Linked DNA regions of Homo sapiens: region 1 is linked to region 2. Evidence: fine-mapped expression QTL. A gene starts in region 2. The other region holds a variant in brackets. All regions are shown on one strand. Distances are from middle to middle. Region 1 overlaps TRAK2 (trafficking kinesin protein 2). Region 2 holds the start of STRADB (STE20 related adaptor beta).

Region 1 (8,000 bases), 64 kb after region 2:
AATGTCTGTTTAGCCCATTGCAGGTGGTATTAATTAACTTTGATCTCTTGGTTAAGGTAATCTGCTGGTTTTTTCCACTGTAAAGTTAACGGTAATTAACAGTTAATTAAATTAACACTACTAATTCACCGTGTAGTGATGAAAATCGGCAGATACTACCCCAACCAAGTGATCAAAGTAAACATTTTATGAGAGATACTTTGAGACTAAGTATCCTGTTCCTCATCAAACTATTACCCACTAGTTTTAGCACCCATTGATGGTTCTTATCTGGCAGAGTTATTACAGTGATGACTGCCAAATGGTGATTTTCAAATTTCATCATTTTTCAACATTTATTAATTGGCATTTTTCTTTTGTAAGTTAGTGCATTCCTGTCCCATTTATTTGTTCATTTGTTCACTTAGGTATGTCATGGACTCATGGATTTCTATTTTATTCAATAGATTACAAGCTATTGTTGTATATTCAATCTGTATGTAGGATATTCAGATTGTCCTAGATATGATCAGTAGGATCTCCTTTAAGCTGATCTTGTACTTTTTGTCTCAGCCCTGGAATCAGCCATTTCTCCAAAGAGCTCTGGTTACTTTTATTGAAGAATTGTATTTCGAATCCAAGATCTGGGTGTTAGGTGTGCCCATTGATTGCTACTAGAGTATTGTGGCTTCTAGTCCCTCTCAGCAGGTAGGACTAGGAAATATATGTATTTCATACCTATACCTATACTATATATGTGTATATATATGTTTTCATCCATATATATATAAATATATATAATCATGAGTTCACACCATTGCCTCCAATTCCAGTCATCCTCAGCTGAGTCCCACTGAGCATGTCACCCATATTAGTTGAGTCCTCACCCCTGACCAGAGGAAGAGGAAGCTTGCTTTTTTTTTAAATGATTTTTAATGTTATAAAAGCTATGCATGTTTATTACAGAAAAGTTGGAAATTACAGAAAAGCAAAAAGCAATCGTTAAATACCATTAAATTCCACCCTCCACAGAATCACTGTCAACACTAGATTTAGTCCTCATCCCTGACTGGGGGGAAGAGGAAGCTTGCTTGTTCTTTTTTTTAAGTGATTTTTTAATATTATAAAAGCTATACATTGTTTTTTGTTGGTATTTTTGTTTTTACTTTTTTTTTTTTTTTTTTGAGACGGAGTCTCGCTCTGTCACCCAGACTGGAGTGCAGTGGTGCGATCTCAGCTCACTGAAAGCTCTGCCTCCCGGGTTCACGTCATTCTCCTGCCTCAGCCTCCCGAGTAGCTGGGACTACAGGCGCCCGCCAGCACACCCGGCTAATTTTTTTTTTTTTTTTGTATTTTTTTGTATTTTTAGTAGAGACAGGGTTTCACCATGTTAGCCAGGATGGTCTCGATCTCCTGACCTCGTGATCCACCCACCTTGGCCTCCCAAAGTGCTGGGATTACAGGTGTGAGCCACCGCACCCGGCCAGCTATACATGATTATTATAGAAAAGCTAGAAATTACAGAAAAGCAAAAAAAAAATTGTTAAATACCATTAAATCTCACCCTCCACAGCATCACTGTCAACACTGGGTTTATGGCCTTTCAGACCTTTTGTTTTTGTGTGCCTGCACATATATTTTCTATTTATCATATCAGCTTTTTCCACTACTTTCCTATTTGAAAAGATTATGAAAAGGTAGTTGGTTCTTATTTAAAAGTTATATTTCCAGAATGTCTTTTTTCCCCTGAATGTTAGCCTTGACTATTTCCTTGTATTTTATTATAAAACCAAAAGTATAGGATTGTAGAGACTCTGTTAATTTAAGGGCAACAATCACTTTAGAAATCTCAAACTCTTTTTCTTAGGAATCTTTGGCAGCTGAGATTGAGGGGACTATGCGTAAAAAGCTGAGTTTGGATGAGGAATCTTCTCTCTTTAAACAAAAGTAAGTACAGGTCACATGTGTTGTTACTCAATCATTGGAATAGAAATTAAAAAGAAGCCACAATCCAAAGTGGCAAGTATTACGAGATTCAGTAGTAATTTGCTTACTATTCAGTGTTTTCCTCACAGTGTCCTTTTTTTGTGAGAGAGTTCTCTTGTTTGAAAGCTTATTTTCTGATGATTTCTCCTAAATAGCTCCTCAGGGTGGCTTTATTTCTGATGGACTGCACATACATTCTCTTCTCTAGATGCTTTAGTGGCTAGCAGTGATAATAACGAACACTTCCTTTTTTGACAGAGCCCAACAGAAGCGGGTATTTGATACCGTCAGGATTGCCAATGACACACGGGGCCGCTCTATCTCATTCCCAGCTCTGTTACCCATTCCAGGCTCCAACCGTTCAAGTGTCATCATGACAGCAAAACCTTTTGAGTCTGGTCTTCAGCAAACAGAGGACAAATCACTCCTGAACCAGGGGAGCAGCTCAGAGGAGGTTGCAGGGTAGGAATCCGATGATAACAGTGATTCTGCATTTCTTTTCACATTGCCGCACCAGATTCACATACGCACATTCCAGCATTACTCTACTGTCCCAAGAAGGTTCTGGAACTGTCAGTTTTCCTTCACTTATGATGCCTTGTATCATTATTCATGAGACAGATCATGCCAAAGTCAAATTTTTTTGAATCTGTTTGGTCACTAGCATGAATACATCGGATGACACCTTCTCATAATCCGTGCTCATAATCTCAACCGCTTTGGTGATTTTTAGGATAAATGTAAGTTTGAATACATCTTGAGGACCATCGAGGTGCTGTCGATTTTCTGTTTATTTAAACTTGGATTTTTTTTTCATTCCTTTTATTAATTCAGTACATTGAATTCTATATAACTAGAAGGTAAACAACTTTACTGAAAAGTGAGCTGAAAGCTTTGCAAGATAGATGTTTGGCACCAAAGGGAAATGTTTCCTAACATAAAAATTCATCACACTAGGTTTCAGTTGCATTGCCTGGTCTGTCCTGGGCAGTGTTCTGCACCCACAGCAGCTTTGTGTCCTACTGCCTCACTGTCACACAATTATCTTAGGAGAAGATCTGAAACACATTTATGTGGATTTATACCCCAGTATCCCAGAGTACCCACAACTCAGCTTGCTGATCTTCCATTTGATATCAATTATAAGATAGCTTCCAGTTTCAAAAGTGTTGAAGTCAAAAAATGGGCATCAGACAACTATAAAAATGCAGTATTATATACAAATTTTGTTGTTTCCTTTTAAATGTTCTGCAGTGTTGATGGGTGATTCTGTGACCCAAAGCAAATTTTTTTCATATTTTAATATTTTTTAAATTATTATGTTTTGTAACTGATAGTATGCCTTAGTTTAATCCGTAGCGTTTTTTTCCTTCTTTATGATACATAAAATAATGGTACCTCTTGCAATCTATGATACAGATTCAGCAAAATATAATATTTACTTTCGTGACCACCTAATATGAATTTATAGATGGTTGAATGTGTAGTTTCATAAATTAAATGAAATAGAAAATTCAGAAAACACAGAATATCAATAAAGTATTATCTTGCCTTTCAAGTCATTTGCAATGATCTGTAAAAATGATATATAGTGTTGTTGGTGATTTTGGT[T/G]TGTTGTTATTACTTCTATATTCCAGGTATCTAGGAAAATATCATGTTTTTAATATCAGTCTCTTGAATGCTTACCATTATAGAAAGGAGAGGTCTGGGTCATGCTGATGATCCTCAAGATCTAATCAGTGAACGCGATTTTCCTATAGGAGCTCCCAGAAGATGGGCCAACCAGGACCCTCAGGAGATAGTGATTTGGCTACAGCACTGCATCGCCTTAGCTTGCGTCGACAAAACTATTTAAGTGAGAAGCAGTTCTTTGCTGAAGAATGGCAGCGGAAGATCCAGGTTCTGGCAGACCAGAAGGAAGGAGTTAGTGGCTGTGTCACCCCGACAGAGAGCCTTGCCTCTCTCTGCACCACCCAGTCAGAGATCACAGACCTCAGCAGTGCCAGTTGCCTTCGAGGTTTTATGCCAGAAAAATTACAAATTGTCAAGCCCCTTGAAGGTAATAAATCAGTAAGGGCCCTTACTAAGCCATGTGACTTACTGGAAGTTCCTTTCCCTGGAATTGAGATTTGTGTCTTAATTATAGGAACATTATGTGCAGATGATCTTTTTATCCCTTAATCTTGCTGTTTGGGTGGCAAGACTGTAGTACTTTGTGGAAAATTAATGAATGAAGAGAGTTGCATTCTCTGAATCATCAGCCAGCAGTTCTCTTCTGATGTTTTTTAATATAAACGTGAGCAGGGAAGAGGAGTAATCTTTTTCTGTCCTTTGCTAAGGAATATCATTGACAGCAGTTTCCATGGTTAGATGAATAAGATATGATAAATGATAATGATCTAGAGATAATAATTCATCTCCACCTTCCTTTTCAAAAGAGTTTTTTACCCAAAAGTATAATTGACTTAGAGGTGTGTGTGTACCTGTATTTTTCCTTTTTTCAGTTTAGTTTCTATACTCTCCTAAGAAAGAGCTTGAATTCAAAATAAATTCCTTCATTTTCTGGAACAATGACAATCATTGAATGATTCTCTGATATTATCCTAAAAGAGTTCTGCATTAAATGAAATTTTGAGTGTGTAACTTATAAAGACCCCTCAAACTCAAAGATTTTATAACTTAGTTGTATTCATTAATGATCAGTGCAGATATTTGTTGGAGTTGCCATTTTTAGGATGAAATGACTACAGTGACATAATTAGACATTGCATCTGGTGCAATTACTTGGGATGATCATTCACCAGGGTTCTGTAGCCTGGAACCAGTAGAACATATCCTCCTTTTCATTATCTTCTTCATTTTCCTATTCTCCCTGGGAGCCTGGCTTTTGACTTTCACCTTCATAGGCATAGTTCCAGGCCAGAGAAGTATTGACTTTTTTGTCACCTGGGAAAATACAGCCCACCTCTTAGGCACGTATCTTCCATCACTGCCTCAGCAGCTAAGCTCCTTTCCTATTAAGGGTGTCTCCTTGGGTTTTTTTTCACCCCTTTAGGTGTCCTCCTTAACTATTAAAACAGATTATGACTCATACCTTTGACATCTTGTCATCTTCCACTGAAAACTTTAATTTGCAGCTTTTACCAAATTATTAACACCAAATAAATAGTTTTATTGCTGTCATTATTGTTATTACACATATAATTTTAGCTTGTGTTTTAAGATTTGTGGGAAATGTAAAACATGCCTTTCCCCTTCCTTTGTTTTGCATATTCAGGATCACAAACTCTGTATCACTGGCAGCAGCTTGCTCAACCAAACTTGGGAACCATCCTTGATCCACGACCAGGTGTCATTACTAAAGGCTTTACCCAGTTGCCCGGGGATGCTATTTATCACATCTCAGATTTAGAAGAGGATGAAGAGGAGGGTATTACTTTTCAGGTTCAGCAACCTCTTGAAGTGGAAGAGAAACTTTCAACATCCAAGCCAGTAACAGGGATCTTCCTGCCACCCATTACTTCAGCAGGTGGACCAGTTACAGGTGAGAAGAGTGTCTGGTTGAATATGGTATAATAACCAGAAGTACTTTGCATTCTGACTTACTAGACAGTCAGCTGGCTACCTCTGCTCACTGGAGGGTACTTAATCTTGCATATCAGATAATGAAAATCTATAGCATTAGTGGCATTCCTAATTCTCTCCACTTTATCTTAGCCAGCCTGCGTTAGTAGATTGGGTAGAGAGCTGGATGAATTCAAGTCAGTGGTTCACAAACCTTTTGGGCTCAGAAACTCTTTATACTCTAAAAAATCATTGAGAATTCCAGAGAGCCTATCTGTGCAGGTTATATCTATTGACATTTAATATATCATAAATCAAAACTGAAAAACCATAAAAATATGTATTAACTCATTTAAAATAATTGTGTTACACAAATATGTTTAATGAAAAATAGCTAATTTTTTTACATAGTGAGAAAAACAGTTGTTCAAGTCTCTAATTTTTGACTTAATACAAAATAGCTTTATTCTCATTATCAGCATCTGCCTTCAGTCTATTGCAATATGTTGTTTCAGTTGAACAATATGAAGGAAATGCAGCCAGGCACAAACATGCAGTTGGAAAGAGTGTTTTAATAGTCTTTTCAGATATGTGTAGCTATTTTTTGATATTACACTAAAACTAGGTAAGTAGTAGTTTCTTGAACGTTTGTAGCAATGTGAGATCTGAAACCCTAACAATGAACTTTTCATTACTTTGTTAACATTAAAATGCATTGGTCAGGCTGGGTGTGGTAGCTCACACCTGTAATCCCAGCACTTTGGGAGATCGAGGTGGGCAGTCACCTGAGGTCAGGAGTTTGAGACCAGCCTGGCCAACATGGTGAAACCCTGTCTCTACTAAAAAAAAAAAAAAATTAAATTAAATGCATTGGTCGTATCCTACATTTTGAATATATCTTTGAGCCATGCTTGATTTTTAAGATCATGCGTTGGTCATTTAGAAAATGTTGATTGGTTCATGGAGTTATGCAGATTTTCCAAATATTGGCACATTTTATTACGTAAAAATATTAAAATCATATTAATATCACCACCTACTCATCAGAAAAGTCTTCAAGGATGTTCATGCTTTCAGTGGTGGATACGAGTTTTCCAAAACTCACTTTTTCTTGAAAGCTCACATTTTGTTAGCTGTTTTTCTTGAAGGACAGGCTCACTTCATTCATTTTTAACATGTCTGTCTTTCACCCAAGTCTGAATTACTATAGTTTGTCTGTTAGTTCTTTCAAGTAAAAATGGTATTCCATGAGAAAATTTCAAATCAGTTGCACAAGTGTTTTCCTCTAGATAACCACTGTATCTCAGTGTGCAGCAAGAGTGCTTAATACATCCTTCCCATTTTTCATCACACAGAACAGGAAAAAGACTCAACGGCCAAGATCCAAAATTTAATAGATAATTTTTACTGCTACTTCAAGGACATTCTTAAGTGAATATGGCTTTTTAAAAAATACCAAGTGCATAACAATAAAGAAGACTAGTACAACTTGGTGATATTGCCTTGTTTTGTGCTGAGGAGCCATCAATTTTGCCTTCCATTGCTTTTGCACCAGCAGTGCAAATGTCAACCCAGTCAAAAAGAAAAGGCCTCTGTCTTACCATTACTATGAAAGTAGCTTTGACATGTAGACTCCCACAGAGTCTGCAGACCACACTTTGAGAACCACTAGAGTAGATAAATTTGGCTGAATCATTTGGATACTAGATCTTGATTTTTTTAATGTATTTTTTCAGTTTTCTCATTTCTAATCTTTGTTTATGCCTTTTGCTTTACAGTTTTAAAGTATTGGATTCACCTATATACTAACCAGTTGATACTAGTACAATCTTTATGTATATTTATTTCATTTCCAGATTTGGGGATTTTTAATACAAAAGGTACTTGATAAATGCTATATTATTAATAAATAATGATGAGCTTTTTACATTATTAATCTAGACTTTCAATCTTGTATTTGCTCCCTAAAAATCTATTTCAGTTGCAACCGCCAACCCAGGAAAGTGCCTGTCGTGCACAAACTCAACATTCACTTTCACCACCTGTAGAATATTACATCCCTCTGACATCACTCAGGTTACCCCCAGGTAAGAGTGCCTGGGAAATCTGGGGCCTCACTTCTTTCCTCAGCTATATTTTCATGAATTTCTTTTTAAAATTACCTTCATTTTAATTTCCAGAATGTTAATTAATGTTCTGTGATAATGTGTCTTTAGAATATTTTCACATTGCATTTTCTCATTTGATTATTAAAAAAGTAGGCAGGGCAAGTGAGTATGTATTGTGTAGAGTAAACTGAGGCATGGAAGGTTGAGGTGACTGGTCCTAGGGCAGACAACTAATAAATAACGCAGCTGGGGCAATATACCCAGAGTTAGCCAAACTGCAAGATTTACAGGGCCAGTCCTCTGCACAAGCTCACCTTCACTTCTGACAACACCTGCAAGTGCAGAGGGTTCCCAAAACCACTT
Region 2 (12,364 bases):
ACTTCCTGAGTAGCTGGGATTACAGGCACCTGCCACCACGCCCCGCTAATTTTTGTATTTTTAGTAGAGATGGGATTTCACCATGTTGGCCAGGCTGGTTTCAGACTCCTGACCTCAATCAAGTGTTCCGCCCACCTCAGCCTTCCAAAGTGCTGGGATTATAGGCGTGAGCCACCACAGCCATTTCAGAATTTTTCATTTCAAGCATCTTATTTTTATATTAACATTAAAGTACAATATCAAATGAGTCTCTTAAGATATGTCTACCTATGTCTACTTAACACTTTGTAGTCAATTACTTAAATATAAATTTCCTTTTAAGATATGCCAGAATTTCTCACTAATCAAACTAGTCATTGTCCCAGTTAGCCTTCATTACTGATTATTTTAACTTGAATTCCTACAGTCTGTATACTTTATAAATCTATTACAAAAATTTGGTATATATTCCCACTGTTTTATGTAAAACTCACCCTGAAGAATAGACGCTAACAATGTCAAGATAGCTGTACAACTGATTCCTCTGCAGAGTTTCTAATGGCTTCCTAGGGTGAATAACATTTATAATAAAACAGTTTTTGAAGATACTTATTACTGTTGTTCATATTGAAAATATCCACCAGCTGGGCAGGACATTTATATATTGTTTGGTATTTATATATTTTTACAACATTTAGCTTGAATTTTTCACAACGACCATTAATACCACTGTGCAAAAGAAGAATTAACAGCAGGCCTAAAACTGCTATTCTTAGAAAATAGCTGCTTATAAGGTTGACCCTTGGCTAGTATCTGGGAACTGGGATTTTGCAGAGGTTCCCTTCATAAGAATCGCTCACTGTGTCTAAACTGTTTGTGCAAATAATACAGTTTATGCTGAACACCTGGCTTTTTTTCTGGGAGACTGGAATTTTGTTACTTGCTAGCAGAGCACGCCTACGTGACAAGTCCCCAATAAAAACCTTAAGTCCAAGTCTCTAATGAGCTTCCCTAGTAGACAACATTTCACATGTCACAACTCTGGGGGAACTGTGCATATACTATGGAACTCCACTGAGAAAAGATTCTTGAAAGCTTGTGCCTGGTTTCCTCTGAACTTCACCCCACATACCTTTTCCCTTTGAATATTTTTGAATATAATTTCTTTATCCATTATCATAATAGCCAAGTAAAAAGTAGTTAGACCTTACAAAGAAACTGAAAGAAGATATTTTTACATATGCTGCTCCTTTGAAAACAGCATTTCTTAGTTCTCAAATAGAGGGTAAAACTTGAATGGGGAGGAATCCTTAAGTAAAAGTATCAACTTTATCCCAACTGCACAAATTTCTCGTTTAAGGAAAAAAAGTAAATATTTCGATTCAAAGAATTTAAAATATTTCACCATTGCAGAAAAATGTGATTTAAAGTTACAATCATTAACGATATAAATCACCCATTATCACATTCTATTATTTTTCACAAAACCCATAATTATGGAATAATAGGCTAAGATATTCTTTTTCCAAAATTTGAAAGCCCTGGGCAACACACAGCCCTTTGAATCTCACAATTCTCGCCTATCAAATGAAGGGAATAGACTGAATGCCCTTTCACATCTTTTCCAACTTAAAAATTGATATAAAATTGTAAATCTTAAGTAATCCTTTAGAGTAAGGGTCGGCAAACTATGGTCCATGAGCCAAATCTGACCCACCACCTGTTTTTGTGAGTAAAGTTTTACTGGAACACAGATACATTCATTCATTCATTTATATATTGCCTATGGCTGCTTTCATGCTAGTATTTCAGCAGAAAAGTAGCTGTAACAAAGACCAAAGGGTCTGTAAATACTATCTGGCCTTTACAGAAAAGCTTGCTGATCCCTCCTTTACAGAATAAAACATTTCACCTCCGTGTATTTTCCAGATATATAAAGCTTCTCTTTCAAGTGGTAATGCTTTACTTTAAACATGTAAGTAACTGTGTTATGTATTTTCCATATTACTAACAATCCAGTCTTCTAACTTCATAGTTCTGCCTCTCAGCCTTGGTAATTGATAGAATAGATTGGCAGGTATGAGTCTGGCTCCAACTTTTTGCAATCTTGGACAAACTGAAAATGAGGATAATGCCACCTGCCCTGCTAAACTTACACAATTTGAAACTATGAAAGAAATATATGAAAGTATTTGTAAACTATAAATCATCATACAAATATACTCATCCTTTTTTTTTTTTGAGACAGGATCTCCCTCTATCACCCAGGCTGGAATGCAATGGCATGATCACAGTTCACTGCAGCCTTGATCCCTTGTTCAAGGGATCCTCCCACCTTAACCCTCTGAGTAGCTGAGACTACAGGCATATGACACTACGTCTGGCTAATATTTTATACAGACAGGATCTCACTATGTTGCCTAGGCTGGTGTTGAACTCCTGGGTTCAACTGATTCTCTAGCCTTGGCCCCTAAAAATGCTGGGATTACAGGTGTGAGCCACTACACGTGGTCTACTCATTACTTTTTTAAAAACCACATTTTAATATAAGTATTCCCTATTCAAATATTATTATTATGTATAAAACAGGATGAAAGTCCTCAAGCTACTTAATCTAAAGTAGATACCACGGATCTAAATATAAATAGAAAACCAGTTGGCAGCTATACCTCATATATACATTGATCCAAATGATTTTATTTCGGTTAAGTCAAAGGGGTTATTTTTAATACTGTTTGGCTTGCTTTTGGTCAGATGGAAATTTGTAAAAGGAATTTCTGAAAGATTTAAAAGATAAGGCATAGCTAACTGGTGTGGGTGGCATATCAAAGTATAACACCTATGAGAAAAAGTAGATATGGGACAAAAGATTAGAATAATGAACATATTGAAGTATACGAGAAGTTCTTTATGAAAGAAAGAAAAACTCAATGAGAATGTAATTCATTTCTCAAGTCCAGAAGTCAATCAGGTCAAAACAATATCTCAGAGCATAAGAATATCCCATCAGAATATGCCTTTTATTATGGCTTGGCATTAACATCCAACTACTCTGACAGAACAAAATCAGATCTATATTTACAAAAACTTACCAAAAGAGACATTGAATCACTTTAGTTCACACAGAAAGTGACAAAAATCCATCTATTCCAAAGAAGGCTTTTGTTTTATCTTCCTTTCAAGATGCAGATATATCCTACTATAAAAAACAAAAGCAAAATAATTTAGATTCACATAAAAGTTCCTTAAAGAACCAGTTGCCTTAAACCCATCCAATATTTAGGCAGCTATTCCCTGATACCCAATATTTAGGCAGCTACTCCTTGACACAAGGAGACATTCCTGAAAAGTATCTTTAAAGAGCATTTATTTTTTACTGAACATTATTTGTGATCTGACATCACAACCAAGAAGCAGAGTGAAAACAAAAAGAAGTCCTGAATATTTCCAAAGCCTCAATATGTTTGCATTTCTCCTTCCCTATCTTTTCTATACTGTTTTTTGTTTGTTTTTTAAAGAACGCTGAGCAAATTTGAAAGCAATGTAGAAAACCAATTTTTGGCCCACTTTTGATATAAACAGTGTCACTTACAATAAACCCCAAGAATTTTCAATGGTTCCACATATTACAACTAAACTTTGAGACTTTCCAAAGCCCTTTCTTATTGGATTAATTACGTATTAAATCATTTGGGGTCCCTGACCAGCAAATATGGGAAAGAATCAGAATAACAGACTAGGAAATTAATTCAAGGAGATACAAAAGCACCATCCACGGTTTCCAGACCTTTACTAATAGAAAGGGTGGCAATCTTGTAAGTTTGTGGGTTCAGAGCATCCCTTTACATCTAACCAACATCATCTCTTTCATCTAAATTGTGCTTCATTATTTCAACTCCCCAAATTTGATGAACCCATCTACAAATATGTGAGCAGGATGAGAAAGGGAAGATTTTGTAAACCATAAAAACCATAAAGCAATATCCAATTTTATTGCTAAAGAAAGAGGTGAATTTATTCAGGATGTTCACTATGAACCAAAGGTAGAGATTGGGAGGAAGACGGACCTGAAAGGCTGTGATCATTTAGCCACCTACCATTCATTACCGTCAATTTAAAGCACTGGAGTTTGCTGTGCTGCAAAAGGAGGAAAGCAATGCCTGCCCTGCCAACCTTCCAGGGTGAATGAAATCAAATGAGTTACATCTCAAAGTGCCCCTAATTAGCAAACACTGTATCAGCTTGAACTATGCTTTGAAAGGTACACTCAAATGTACTGATGGCAGTACAAAACTATAAGGTTTATTTGGAAAGCAGGTTGTCAAATGTTTCAATAACCATGAAAATATTCATACTTTTTGACCCAGTAAAATTCCCCGGAGTGATCTATTCTAAGGAGATATCCAAGTAAATGAAGAAACTACACATCATAGTCAATACACTGTTAATCTGTTAACAGCCAAGTAATCATTACACAAGTGTTTAATGAGTGGTTACCATGGGTCAGGCACTGTGGACACCCGCTGGTAATCAGGGCAGACAAGACCCTGGCCACTTGTAGCTGACCTTCCCACAAGCAGAAGGGTTATGGATGTCATGATTAACCAAATTTTCTGGTTATCATGATTTTGTATCCTGCTTTTTTCACTCAATGTCAGCAAGTTGTTACTGATTTTGTCTTAATAATGTGAAACTCCATTACGTTGTCTATTTTTTTCTCTTTTTCAGAAAAGCTCAGAAGAAACAGACACAATCTGGTAAGAATTGTTAGTAATAAAAGGGTTGTCCCTATGGGGTGGTTTAATCTCAGAGATTTTTGCCTTAGATACACCAGACTATTAAGAGATAATTTTACAAGACATTTTGAGGTCAAGGCAGCAGCTGCACCCAGCAAAGGGGTGGGGGTGGGGGATTTGCTGTTATTATAATTTTCTCCGGCATGCTCTTTCACGAGATATGAATATAAACCCTTTCTTAAAAAAAAGTCATATTTAAGAGACTTATATTTCGTATTCACAAGTACATCAGTGCAGTCCCTTACACTTGTATCCAAAACGCTAATTACGATAAAGCTTTATAAGTAATTTCAGTTTGTTCCATAATAGAATGGTTCATGTGAAGACTTTGATCTGAAAGATTAACACTTTCTGTAGAAACCAAAGGGCGCATCTTCTAGAACACGGGTTTTGAGTTAATTTAGGCATTCAACAGAGGCCACTGTTACAGGGAATGCAAAAATGACCCGATGTAACTCTTTGTTGAGCTTTAAAATTACTGTAATTTTCAAAGTGATCTTGGGAACCCATAAAATCTTAACAAAGATCATAGCGACGCACAGTTCAGGAGAATTTTCCAAGCTTAGTGACTCATGCGTTCAACAAATCTTTACTGAGCGCCTACTGGGTGCCAGGCACCGTGCTAAGCAGGCGCCGTGTTACACATCCGTATCAAGTTTTGGGGAAAAGGTACTTGACAAAGACCCAGCAGGGAAAAACACAGCGTTGAATTGAAAAACCGAAGACAAAACGACACTCGAGTATTTAATTTTGTAAAAGGTTCCTTCCTAGTCCTGCTATGGGGGACTTTGCAGCGAACTTGCAGAAGGCGGCAGATAGAGCTGGGGTCTGAGGGTGTCTTCGATATGGCAACTCCCCAAGCCCGAGAGCGCGGCCAAAGGTGAGGGGTGCGGGGAGAGGGCGCCCGGGCGGCCTGGGCCCCGCGCACCTGGCACGGCCGGCACGGCCAACCCGGCAGGCACCACTGGGCGGGCTGCGAACCCGCGGCCCGGGCCCCGCTGAGCCCGAGCTGCACTGGCGCAGTGGCTGCTCGCCACCTCGGGCCGCATTCTTGCCACGGCTCCCGCCAGCCGCCGGTGCTCGGGCTGGAGGTGGGCTAGCGCGTTCTGGCCTCTGGCTTCCCGGGCGTGCGCGGACCAAGGCTCACTCCCTCACACGTCCCCCACCGGCCCCGACACCTTCCCTTCCCGGGCCTGCCTCCCGTCTTTACCCTAGCGGCGACCACGGCCAGCGACTCTCTTCAGGCTGCCAGCGGTGCGGACAGGGGCGGGCGCCAGAGCCCTGCTCGCGGAGGGGCGAGGCGAGCGCTCTAGGCCCGCTCCCGGCGCGGGGCGCGGGAGGGCGGCGAGGCCGCGACCGGGGCCGTGGGCTTGGAACTCTGCACCAGTCCCAGGCTACCCGCTGGGAACGCATTCGCCCCACCCGCGCCGGGGTCGCGGCCCCGCCTCCCTCCCCGGGGCTGGGCAGCGAGAAGGCGGGGCCTTCGAGCTTGAGGCGGGGCGGGCAGGAAACTACAATTCCCAGCAGGTCTTGCGCTGGGGCCGTGGAGGCCGCTGGGAGAGTGGCTCTCCTTTGGCTTCCCCAATTGTGTGGGGGCTGCCATTGACCCGGTGTCGCCGCAGAACCGAGGTCGCCGAGTGATGATGTTGTGAAGTCGCCCGCCTGTCCCTGCCACGCCCGGGCGGTTGCTGGCAGTGGGAGCAGCGGCAGCAGCTTCGGCTGCTGCTTTCAGGCTGCCGCTGCATTAGGGGCTTCCTGAGGAAGCGCGGGCGGACGACAGAGGATGCCGAACCACTCCAGTGAGTAAGCTGTCCGCGCAGAACCCGAACTTGCCCTTGACAACTTCCCCGGAAAGCGGAGGGACCTCCTCGTCCCAAGGTCCTCCGGTACCCGGAGGTCACGCGCGGACGTCGGAGCCGGAGGCTGGGTGCTGGAGGGCTGGGTCCGGGTCCCGCGGTGAGGCGTGGGTTGTTTCCTAAGTGTGGGTGCAAAGTAATGGGCGCTAGGCGCTGGCGTCGGTATTCAGCCCAGCTGCACATCTGAGGCTTGGCAGCTTCTCATAGCGCCTTATCCTCTGCCATACAGCATCCATCTGGAGCCCTGTCTTTTAGGATGAGTGGCTTTAGGGTCGGGCATTAAACCTTAAGCTTCAGTCGCCATCTGTGATGTAAGTGGGAGGAGAGGGTATTGGAAAGAGCTCTTTCTGGGTCAAATAGAGTTGGGCTTTTCTTGCAATTGATTTTGAGCCAGATGCCACATATCTTGAAAAAGAAAAACGGCTGACTTTAGTTTGAAGCGTAAATAATAGATATTCGCACATGTCCTTTTTAGTAGCAGCCCAAAAATTGAATTTCAACTTAAAAAAAAATCTGCGTCATAATAATAGGGATGTTACTTGCTCTTGCTCATGCACCTTTTGCTTAGACCTGCTGTTTCTACGTCAGAAAAAAAAAAAAAAAAGGTAACTTCACAGGATATTCATCAAGTTGATGGAATGGACCATAGGAACAAAAGGAACACTTTCAGTTCTTGGTCTCCGTAAATCTTCCCGACCTTTAGATCTTTGCTGTTGACTTGGAAGTCTGAGGTACAGTAGTCTCCAAATAGCAGGTTAATGGTGGTGACATGACACTTAAAAACAAATTGTGAAGGACATTTGGAGGTGAGAAAGGTCAGGGATGAAGACATTTTATCATCCTAGCAGTTATTCCAACTTTCTTTTCTTTTTTTTTTTTAAGACAGAGTCTCGCTCTGTCGCCAGGCTGGAGTGCAGTGGGGTGATCTCGGCTCACTGCAACCTCCGCCTCCCGGATTCAAGCGATTCTCCTGCCTCAGCCTGCAGAGTAGCTGGGACTACAGGCGCGCACCACCACGCCCAGCTAATTTTTGTGTTTTTAGTAGAGATGGGGTTTCACCATGTTGGCCAGGATGGTCTCGATCTCTTGACCTCATGATCCACCCGCTTTGGCCTCCCAAAGTGCTGGGATTACAGACGTGAGCCGCCACACCCAGCTCCAGTTTTCTATTTTTAAAATTAAGTAATGTCCAGCAAGTCTCAGACATTTAGCAAGCACATACCATGTGAAAGACAGTGTTTTGTTATCTTACACACTTATTCATATGATGGAAGAGGTTTGTTAGAAAGAACCAACATTTGGCCGGGCGCTGTGGCTCACTCCTGTAATCCCAGCACTTTGGGAGGCCAAGGAGGACAGATCTCCTGAGGTGGAGAGTTCAAGAACAGCCTGACCAACATGGAGAAACCCGTCTCTACTGAAAGGAAATACACCAGCCTGGCCAATATGGTGAAACCCCGTCTCTACTAAAAATACAGAAATTAGCCGGGCGTGGTGGCACGCGCCTGTAGTCCCAGCTACTCGGAGGCTAAGGCAGAAGAATTGCTTGAACCCGGAGGCAGAGGTTGCAGTGAGCCAAGATTGCACCCCTGCACTCCAGCCTGGGCAACAGCGAGACTCCATCTCAAAAAAAAAAAAAAATTAGCCAGGCATGGTGGCACATGCCTGCAGTCCCAGCTACTGAGGAGGCTGAGGCAGGAGAATCGCTTGAACCCAGGAGGCGGAGGTTGCGGTGAGCCAAGATCGAGCCATTGCACTCCAGTCTGGGCAACAAGAGTGAAACTCAGTCTCAAAAAAAAAAAAAAAAAAAAAGAACCAACATTTTAGTATTTGCAATCTGCCAGGCACCCCAGGTGGGAGCTCTTCATACTTTAGCTCACTTAATCACTTTAACAAACCTATCACACTAATCTGAGGCTCAAAGACTTGCTTATGTAACAAGGGGAGATTTAAATCTAGATCTGCCTTGCTTCCAAGTCACAGATCAGGTAACTAATACGTACTTCAGAAATTATAGACTTTAAAGGTTGAGTGGTTAAAGAGGATTGTCTAGTGTTATTGTCTAAGACTGGTTCCAACACACACCTTGGACATCTGGAATAAGTCCTGAACCCCTGCTTTAGTACTTTTGAACAAACTGATTCTCTCTGCCTACAATTCCCATTTCTTACTGAACTGCTCAGTAAGACCCGAAAAGCCCATTCCAAATCCATCTCACTTATGTAAGAAATTATAAGACTGGACTTTTATCAAAAGGTTCTTTTCAGTTTACAGGTTTTGTGAGTCTGCAAATAAAAATATGACCCTGCTGGGTGTGGTGACTCACACCTGTAATCTCAGCACTTTGAGAGCCCGAGGCAGGAGGATGACTTGAGACCAGCCTGTTCAACATAGCAAAACCCCATGTCTACCAAAAATAAAAAATAGCTGGGTGTGGTTGTTTGTGCCTGTAGTGCCAGCTGAGATCAAAGGATCCCTTGAGCGATGATGGCACCACTGCACTCCAGCTTGAGTGACAGAGTGAGACGCCATCTCTAAAAAAAATTAAAATACGAGCAGAGAAGTGTTATTCTCCACTGAAACTTTCTTTGCTTTAGTGCCCCAAATATGTTAAATACCAGTATAAGGAATGAGACAGATAATGTCTTATTTCATGTTTATTGTGAGCTCTCATTATATTATCTGTACCAGTTTTGAACCTCTTTAGTTACCATCCTGTTTAGTTGGTAAGAAATAGGAGGCAAAAAGGTAATAGTCACATTTAAATGACTTAGTAATTAAAAGAACTAAATTATTCATAGTTGAGTCATTATCTGTTCAGATCTGCAGTGTTCTTATAATAATAGGAAACATTTATGTAATACTATGTGTTAGATAATGTTTTACCTATATTAACTTATCCTCACAATAGCACTGAGGTGTTTTTATAGATAGGCAACTAAAGCAAAGAGAAGATAGTAAATATACCAAAGGTCATGTAGCTACTACATGGTAGTACTGAGTGTCAGAGAAGACAAGATCAAAATCTGTAATCTAACATTTATTGAGAACCTACTGTGTACCAGCCCCACAGCTGGGTGCTTTCATTATGAGTTAGTCATTTGTCTTTACAACTACCTTATTTAAAATGGAAGTTCAGCATGTAATGACTTGCTCAGAGTCACAGATAAGTAAACTGTGGAATCAGGATTTGAACCCATGCTTGTCGTACTTCAAGGTTCCTGTTCTTTCTTTCATTTTCCTTCAGTGATCAAATCTTTATTAAACACCTTCTGTGTGCCACACACTGTGCCAATGCTAGGAATTTAGTCTTTGCTCTTAAGGAATGTAGTTTGAAGAAGGAAAGAGACAATTAACATAGTGTGTTGAGCAATGGGATCACAGCTTGCCGAGGTACTTTGGGAGCACAGAGAAAGAACACTGAAGTTACTCTGGAGTGGGAAGGCTTGGACCAGTCTTGGGAAAACAAATGGGAATTAGCCTGGGCAGAGAAAAGGGGAAGGGGTTGTTATGGGCTGAATTGTGTCCTCCCAAAATTATATTGAAGCCCTAACAGCCGTAACCTCAGAATGTGACTGTATTTGGAGACAGGGCTTTGGGGTGATTAAGTTCAGATGAAGCCGTTAGGGTGGGTTCTAATCCAGTCTGACAGTTTTCCTTATAAGAAGGAAATTTGAGCACAAAAAGAGACACAGGAGTTGCACACACAAAGGAAAGACCATGTGAGGATTCATCAAGAAGACCAAGGAGAGAGGCCTCAGGAGAAACCAACCTGCCAACACCTTGATTTTGGACTTCCAGACTCCAGTATTGTGAAAAAATAAATTTCTGTTGTTGAAGCCACCCAGTCTGTGGTAGTTTTTTATGGAACCCCTAGCAAACTAACAAATAGGTGTTCTAGGCAAAAGGAATGACATACAAAAAGGCTTTAAGCTGTGGTTAGGTGATAGAAGTTGACATACAAAAAGCCTTTAAGCTGTGGTTAGGTGATTGAGGTTTTTTGGTGAAGAGATAAATGTTGAGAGAAATGAAACTGGAGACTAGGCTGGGGCTGGATTAGGAAGATTTTACATGAGATGCCAAGGGGCTTAAACTTTATCCTAAGGAAGATGGGATGGAGGTGGTTTGTAGCAGTGGAAAAGCATTAGATTTGCATTTTAGAAAGACTAAGACTTGTAAAGGATAAATGAAAGGTAATAAGACCGGAGACAAGGTAACCAAGGTAGCTAGTGCCACAGGATGCTGAACTAACAGTTTTCCCAGAATATTGAAATGTCTAACTAAAACAGAGCCACTGTTAATATAACATTATAAAGGGCACAGCTAACCCTTAGGGTGTACATAAGAAGATAGGGAAAGAATTTGTATATAGCTGTTTGTACCCAGAGGCTGTCTTTATTTTGACATTTTGCTTTTCCTTGTATAGATCATAAAGCTTTATACAACTATCAGAATATTCAGATTTTTCCACTCTAAAAAGTGATCTTATGTATTTAATAGACACTTTTATGGTGCTGACACAGATTTAAGCCAAATTCTTTGACAACCTTTTGAAATACCTACTATTCATTTTAAACGTAAACATACTGAAGCACAGAGAGATTAAGTAGCTTGTCCAAGATCACATAGCTAACAGGCAGCAGAGTTAAGATTCAAACTCAGTCTGTCTTTAGAGTCTGTGTTCTTGGCTTTACACTGTGCTGTTGCTATATGATATTTATCTAGCTCTTTATTTGTGAAAAGAGGGCAGAGTAATACAAAAATAAGTATGTTTGCTGTAAGAGGCATGCAGTTTATCAGAGGAGATAAGGAACAGCTCTAAGGTTTTAAAAACTGTTTTAGAGAAGAGCAGAAAGTGTTCGGAGGCAATACCTCCTTCAAGTTGGGGTTTCTGGGAAGGCCTGTTGGGAAAAGTGGCATTGAGCTGGTGTGGGAAGCATGGCTAGAATTTGGATATGTAGAATGGGGAGAGGACATTAAAATTAGAAGAAATAGCATGGACAGAGTTACAGGACTGAGAATTTCCTGGTGTGTCTAGGAAGCTAGTAAATGCAGTTCTTTCTTTTGGCTGGAATATGTTGTGTGGTTGGGGAAGATGGAGAAGCTAGTTTGCAGGGAGGGGAAATGTCTGGGGAAGAGAATTCTCGGGGAGTGAGGGGCAAGAGAAGTTGTAAGGTTTCAAGCCTGAGTAATTGAGGCATATGCCAGATGTAGTTATCTTTTAGGAGAGGAAAAAGTTCATCTATCCCCAACTCATCAGTTAACAGGTCCTGTTTTCACTATCTCACAAACCCGTAAATCCTTCTTAAAATTTCCATTCACCTAGTTTATACCTTTATTAAAATAATCCATGCGTAAATGTGATAAAATTTTCTAATTATTTTTGTCTCTAATCTCTCCATTCCAAAATTTATCCTGCATCCTGCATTTACATTTATTTCTCTCAAATGTCACTTCTATTTAGAAATGTGTTCCCTGCAGGATCAAGTTCAGACTTCTTAATCTGAACTAGTCAAATTTAAATCTCCAAATACCTTCCCCATAATTCTTCCCACTCAAATTGGTCTGTATATGCTGCCAACCTGGCTCTGTCTGCTACTTGCTGTTGGATATTATCATTATTATTTTCTCCTACCAGATAGTCTCCTCACCTATCCAAATCTTTTCCTCCTTAGGGAGTCCACTTAAATCTTACATCCTGTGTGAAGCCAGACCACCTCAGCTAGAAAAGAG

What was found. PIP is the estimated chance that this variant, and not a neighbour inherited with it, causes the effect.
Region 1: its variant is fine-mapped to the expression of STRADB in whole blood (INTERVAL, PIP above 0.99).

Annotation. Positions count from the first base shown.
Region 1 is chr2:201,383,727-201,391,726 of GRCh38, reverse strand. It overlaps TRAK2 (trafficking kinesin protein 2), which reads left to right. Exons shown (of 16, transcript NM_015049.3): 11 at 1,847-1,926; 12 at 2,224-2,427; 13 at 3,726-4,024; 14 at 5,243-5,509; 15 at 7,511-7,616. Among named protein-coding and RNA genes, the nearest start is that of FLACC1, 30 kb to the right of the region's middle. The variant T/G (reference allele first, on the strand shown) is at 3,577.
Region 2 is chr2:201,445,560-201,457,923 of GRCh38, reverse strand. STRADB (STE20 related adaptor beta) reads right to left here and starts at 6,184. Exons shown (of 12, transcript NM_018571.6): 1 at 5,986-6,184; 2 at 3,072-3,178. The coding sequence starts at 3,083. TRAK2 (trafficking kinesin protein 2) reads left to right here and starts at 6,466. Exons shown (of 16, transcript NM_015049.3): 1 at 6,466-6,574. RefSeq lists a silencer at 5,614-6,293 and enhancers at 6,324-6,853, 6,257-7,111.